Linked DNA regions of Homo sapiens: region 2 is reported to be linked to region 1. Evidence: microRNA targets listed by miRTarBase, many of them from high-throughput screens and not tested one by one. Region 1 holds a microRNA gene; the other region holds the end of a gene's coding sequence.
What was found. The annotated mature microRNA hsa-miR-4758-5p reads GUGAGUGGGAGCCGGUGGGGCUG and lies in region 1 at 1,087-1,109, shown strand. An mRNA with a match to its seed (bases 2 to 7 or 8) in the 3' UTR can be bound and repressed. Matches are read on the target gene's strand: a 7mer-m8 pairs with bases 2 to 8, a 7mer-A1 pairs with bases 2 to 7 and ends in A, and an 8mer does both.

Region 1 (3,000 bases):
CCAGAGGGGCTTCGGAGAGCCCTTTGTGCTGAACCCTGGCACCTGGGCCCTGCGTGTGGAGGCCGAAGGGGTGCTCCTGGTGAGGCAGGGGCCAGAGTGAGGGCTGGGGGCCGGGTCAGGGGGTGGGGCCCACCACTCTCAGCACCACCTCCACCCTGCAGGACTACGTGGTTCTGCTGCCTAGCGCATACTACGAGGCGGCGCTCCTGCAGCTGCGGGTGACTGAGGCCTGCACATACCGTCCCTCTGCCCAGCAGTCTGGCGACAAGTGAGGGCCATGCGTGCGGTGGGACCGGGGTGGGGGCTTCCTGGACCCCCACTGTGCCTGGCTTCCCCCACTCAGGCTGTCTCTGGGGACCTGGGTGGACCTGGGGCTGACCACGGCCTGTGTCCCCCCAGCTGCCTCCTCTACACACACCTCCCCCTGGATGGCTTCCCCTCGGCCGCCGGGCTGGAGGCCCTGTGTCGCCAGGACAACAGCCTGCCCCGGCCCTGCCCCACGGAGCAGCTCAGCCCGTCGCACCCGCCACTGATCACCTGCACGGGCAGTGATGTGCGTGTCCTGGGACCCCACGGAGCAATGGGTGTTGCAGGACCTTGGCCTGGGGGCTGGGGGTCCTGTGGCGGTGGCAGGTTATAGGAGCAGGGCGCTGCCTCAGGCAATGGAGCCCAGCACCCAGGCAGGGCGCCCCTGCCTCCTGCCTCCTGCCTCCTGCATGTGTGACCTCAGTGCCTGTCTGTATGTAGGATTGGCTGTGGCCTCCACATACAGCTCAGCCCCCACCACTTGCCTGGAGATGTCCGGGCCAGGGTGGGACTCGGCTGAAGGGCAGGCCCTGGGGTCAGGGAGGCGCTGGAGTGGGAGGGGAGGGAGGTGGGAAGGGCGAGGGGTGGCGGGCCTCCCGTCACCCTGCCTTCCCTGCAGGTGGACGTCCAGCTTCAAGTGGCAGTGCCACAGCCAGGCCGCTATGCCCTAGTGGTGGAGTACGCCAATGAGGATGCCCGCCAGGAGGTGGGCGTGGCCGTGCACACCCCACAGCGGGCCCCCCAGCAGGGGCTGCTCTCCCTGCACCCCTGCCTGTACAGGTGAGTGGGAGCCGGTGGGGCTGGAGTAAGGGCACGCCCGGGGCTGCCCCACCTGCTGACCACCCTCCCCCCACAGCACCCTGTGCCGGGGCACTGCCCGGGATACCCAGGACCACCTGGCTGTCTTCCACCTGGACTCGGAGGCCAGCGTGAGGCTCACAGCCGAACAGGCACGCTTCTTCCTGGTAAGGACCCCTCAGGTCCCCACCCCAAGGGGTCAGCTTCTTTCAGAAGATTTGAAACATGCATGAGAGGGGAGAGGACAGTTGGGGTCCCAGGTCCCCAAGGCGGCCACACTCGCTCATGCCCAGCCCAGCATGTTTCTTCTGGAACCCCTCCTGCAAGCGTTTTGTGGATTCAGTCCCTTTTGACGTACCCCCGAGCTGTTCCATGTGCTCAGGAAAGCACCTGCAGTCACAGCTCCCTGGCCCCAGGGCAGCCACCTCCTGGCACAGACAGCGTTGGTTGCCTGTTCTGGAACTTTCTTTTCTTTTTTTTTTTTTTTGAAATGGAGTCTCACTCTGTCGCCCAGGCTGGAGCGCAATGGCAAGATCTTGGCTCACTGCAACCTCCACCTCCTGGGTTCAAGCGATTCTCGTGCCTCAGTCTCCCAAGTACCTGAGACTATAGGCACTCACCACCACGCCTGGCTAATTTTCGTATTTTTAGGAGAGACAGGGTTTCACCATATTGGCCAGGCTATTCTCAAACTCCTGACCTCAGGTGATCCGCCCTCTTGGGCCTCCCAAAATGCTGGGATTACAGACAGGAGCCACCATACCTGGCCTGGCACTTTCTATAAATGCCACACAACATGTTCTGTGCAGCCGCGTCTCCCACCGTTGTGTCAGCGGATAAGTTGCCGTGTTCCGAGACACCAACCTCACATGGCCGCACGGAAAGGGAGCACCCATTTGCGGCTTGTGCCTGCTGAGTGCCTGCCTGGGTCAGGTCCTGGGAGAGCTGGGCCTGGCCCGGCCTGGTGGCACCAAGCAGCACTCGAGATAAGAGTGGGGGAACAGTGACGGATGGGAGGGCGAGGGGGAGGAAGAGGGCTATGGGAGGAGCCGCATAGGCCTGTGGGCCCAGGAACTGGCCAACACGCTGGTCTGCGGTTGGGGTTTGTGCAGCTGGAGGAGGAGCAAGGGCATCTTGGAAAGAGCAGGGCTCGGTCGGACGCCTGGGTTTGCAGTTTCCTGGGTCTGAGCTGTGTGACCGGCCCCCCCATCGTACCGCCTGCACCCCCCATCGTACCGCCTACACCCCCCCATCGTACCGCCTGCACCCCCCCCATCGTACCGCCTGCACTCCCCATCGTACCGCCTGCACCCCCCCATCGTACCGCCTGCACCCCCCCATCGTACCGCCTGCACCCCCTATCCTCCCCGCACCACGGGCGTTGCAGCATCTCGTCCCTCTGCCTGCAGCACGGGGTCACTCTGGTGCCCATTGAGGAGTTCAGCCCGGAGTTCGTGGAGCCCCGGGTCAGCTGCATCAGCAGCCACGGCGCCTTTGGCCCCAACAGGTAATGGCAGGTAATGGGGCTGGGAGGGGCGCGGCCGAGGGCCCGGCGGCAGGGCCGGCTCTGACTCACCCACTGTGCTCTCACCAGTGCCGCCTGTCTGCCCTCGCGCTTCCCAAAGCCGCCCCAGCCCATCATCCTCAGGGACTGCCAGGTGATCCCGCTGCCGCCCGGCCTCCCGCTGACCCACGCGCAGGATCTCACTCCAGCCATGTCCCCAGCTGGACCCCGACCTCGGCCCCCCACCGCTGTGGACCCTGATGCAGAGCCCACCCTGCTGCGTGAGCCCCAGGTGAGGGCCATAGTCTCTAGAGGGACGGGGGTGTCAGGGCAGGACTCCGGGTCCCAACCCAGGGCAGGTTGTCCAGGGGGCAGCAGGGGCTCATAGCTCA
Region 2 (3,512 bases), not on the chromosome of region 1:
GGTTTAACCCAGGGACAGGCGTGTCCTGCCCCATGGCTTGTGACATACTTAATCATGTTGGAGGCAGGACAGAGTGTCTGTTTTGCTTGTGGTGCCTGTGGTTTGCCTCTTCTAGGCTTTGGGAATGTAACAGACTAGACCCCAGGACCCCTTTTTTGCGGGAGGGGTGGCTGTGCTGTGCCACTCGCTCTGCGGTGCTGTCTCTACGTCTTCAGTCGCAGCTGGGGGGTGAGGAGAGGCGTGCAGTGGGAGCTCCCAACCCCACCCTCCGCTCCCTGCCCTCTGCCTTTGGGCCCCAGCAATGGCCGCTGACTCTGCTGGTGTTGGTTTCAGATATTTGGCATCTTCCTGGCAAGGACGCTGATCTCAGACATCGAGGCAGTGAAGGCCGGCCATCACTTCTGAGGAGCAGAGTTGAGGGAGCCGAGCTGAGCCACGCTGGGAGGCCAGAGCCTTTCTCTGCCATCAGCCCTACGTCCAGAGGGAGAGGAGCCGACACCCCCAGAGCCAGTGCCCCATCTTAAGCATCAGCGTGACGTGACCTCTCTGTTTCTGCTTGCTGGTGCTGAAGACCAAGGGTCCCCCTTGTTACCTGCCCAAACTTGTGACTGCATCCCTCTGGAGTCTACCCAGAGACAGAGAATGTGTCTTTATGTGGGAGTGGTGACTCTGAAAGACAGAGAGGGCTCCTGTGGCTGCCAGGAGGGCTTGACTCAGACCCCCTGCAGCTCAAGCATGTCTGCAGGACACCCTGGTCCCCTCTCCACTGGCATCCAGACATCTGCTTTGGGTCATCCACATCTGTGGGTGGGCCGTGGGTAGAGGGACCCACAGGCGTGGACAGGGCATCTCTCTCCATCAAGCAAAGCAGCATGGGGGCCTGCCCGTAACGGGAGGCGGACGTGGCCCCGCTGGGCCTCTGAGTGCCAGCGCAGTCTGCTGGGACATGCACATATCAGGGGTTGTTTGCAGGATCCTCAGCCATGTTCAAGTGAAGTAAGCCTGAGCCAGTGCGTGGACTGGTGCCACGGGAGTGCCTTGTCCACTGTCCCCCTGTGTCCACCAGCTATTCTCCTGGCGCCGGAACTGCCTCTGGTCTTGATAGCATTAAGCCCTGATGGCGCCGGTGGCGCGGTGGGCATGGTTCTTCACTGAGAGCCGGCTCTCCTTTTCTTAAAGTGTGTAAATAGTTTATTTATAGGGGTAAGAATGTTCTCACACCATTTCACTTCCTCTTCCTCTCCTCCAGCATTCTCCTCTGAGCAGCCTTAGATAGTGTCCATGGCTGGAGCCGACCCTTTGAGTCCCCTTGAGTGTCTTAAGAACCAGCCCACAACAGCCTCTCTTTCTCCTCCACATACTGCAGCCTCCCTCCATGCATCCCACATACAAGCACTCCCCCACTCCCCAGCGTGGCCTCACTGTCTTCTGGTCTTGGTGCTACTGAAATTGTCACCCAGAATTTGAATCCTGACCCTCCCCACTGCAAGCCCAGGGAGCCCCAGCCCAAGATGGCCAGCCTGAAACTGTTGGCCAGGGCTCCTCTTGTGGCCATGTACCCAGGGCTGGCTGGCCTGCCATTTGCCTCTCCCCGGAGACAGCCGTTCTTCTGCAACCACACCCCGTGCCTAGCCACAACCCCAGGCTGCAGCTGCTCAGAAGCTCCAGGCATTTTGTTTCTGGTGACCGCCCCTAATGGGATATCGGTGATCACTGGTCCACCCTTCCTGTCAGGGCTTTTCTGGGGCTGCTCTTGGAAATGAAGTCTTAAGTACTGAATAACTCCCCTGGGGATAGCTGGGGCATTTGTCTAGCTGGGCTACTTTCTAACACTTTGCCATAGCTCAGACCACTTCTCATCGTTCAGGGATGGACTGCAACCTTAATTTACTTGCCGGAGTGTACATTCTAGTGTGGTGTATACTGGTGGCTGTTGATGATGATTTTTTTTTTTTTACACAATTCTCTGTAGACTAGGAGAAGAATGCTTGTGTTTTTCGGAAGTGTGATGCTTCTCTTTGACTGCCAAACTCTTTTATGGAATATATCTTTATATTAATGCTGTTTTGGTCATTTTTGTTTGGGGTCACTATTGAGATATTGCTAAGCATCTCAGTGGTAAACGCGGCTGCCAGAGGAACCAAGGGATAGGGTATGTAGACCTTACAGAAGGATGGATGGTAAAGGCAGTCCATCATCAGCACAATCTGACTTACATTTCATTGAGTAATTTTTTTTTTTTTTAAGATTCTGTATGGCAGCACTTTCAGTTGCCCTTGTGTGCCGGCCACAGCCGCACAAGTTGGCTTGTGGTTTATCCCCCGCTATAAGTGAGAGCTGGAGAAACTTCAACTCCATAGGTCTAGAGGAAACATTGTTTTAGGTTATTTCTGTCCACCCCTGTGCGATACTATTTATTGATCCAAGCAGAAGAGCTTGGGGACACTGAGTCGAAGTGGGGACATGGGATTGAAGCCTGGGCACTGCTGCTGCATGAGCTGTGTGTCCTGGGTGTGCCGGCCTTTCTGTGAAGGGGGTTGGTGGCAGTGCCCACCTCACTAGATGCCTCTGACCCAGCCTCCCCTGGGGGAGTGGGTGGCCACAGACCCTCCCTGCCAGAGCTCCTGGAAGGCTCCTGCAGGCCTGACCCATCTATTCCTGTAGACCTGGTTTAGGATGAAGTCTCGGTGCGATTTTTGCAGAGTTGGGTTTATCTTTCAACTATAGACCCTTCTGGCTGTTCTCAGCCATATCATGTGACTCTGAATAGTTGGATGAGGAATGGAAAGAAAGCAAGGATGAGAGCCGGTCACGTGGCAGTCTCCGCCCAGCATCGGCTGTCCGCACAGAGGCACAGGGCAGGCCTCCTGTGCACTCCCCACCTAGCACTGGCCTGTCCTGAATCCCCGCCTTCCCTGGTTGGAGGCCAGCTGTGGCATTTGCACCCTCTTCTCACCTCACCATGCACATGCTAACTTTAAAGCCTTGGGGTCTTTCCTGTACCCCCTCCTCAACCCTGGTCCACCCCCTCTCAGGATCTTGTCAACGTTATTTTTCCTGTCCCGTCTTCCTATCGCTGGCCTTCCTTTCCCATCCTAAAAACTTGCCGAGGCCCTATGGCTCCCTCCCTTTCTTTCCCAGGCAGCTTCTTATCTGGGCTGTCTGTACCCCTTCCTTTGCACCACCCACCATGCCCCACGTAGCTGAAAGCTGCTTATCCCAATTGTCAACTCTGGCCTTCTTCAGCCTCTGTAGCACCAGACACTGCACCTCCTGAATGTCCTCTGCTTCTCTGCTTCAGAGGCCCAGGCTCGCCAGTTCTCTGACCTCTCCCATATGTCTGCTTAGGACTCTGCTGCAGCTGTCCTCACCAGCCTCCGGGGAATCCCACTACCCACAGGGCAGGGCTGTGGGCTGGGCTGAAAAACCATCTGCATGGTCCACAAGAAGCCTGGCACTGGGTTTCCCCATGAATAACAATGAAAATTAATGGATGCACAACCTTCCTGGAA

Region 2: miRTarBase lists TSPAN14 as a target of hsa-miR-4758-5p. The part of its 3' UTR that is shown has no 7-base or 8-base seed match.

Annotation. Positions count from the first base shown.
Region 1 is chr20:62,330,643-62,333,642 of GRCh38, reverse strand. MIR4758 (microRNA 4758) reads left to right here and starts at 1,086; the gene lies at 1,086-1,156. It overlaps LAMA5 (laminin subunit alpha 5), which reads left to right. Exons shown (of 80, transcript NM_005560.6): 24 at 1-79; 25 at 162-268; 26 at 400-553; 27 at 926-1,086; 28 at 1,163-1,271; 29 at 2,514-2,611; 30 at 2,699-2,900.
Region 2 is chr10:80,517,572-80,521,083 of GRCh38, forward strand. It overlaps TSPAN14 (tetraspanin 14), which reads left to right. Exons shown (of 9, transcript NM_030927.4): 9 at 334-3,512. The coding sequence ends at 405. Among named protein-coding and RNA genes, the nearest start is that of TSPAN14-AS1, 17 kb to the right of the region's middle.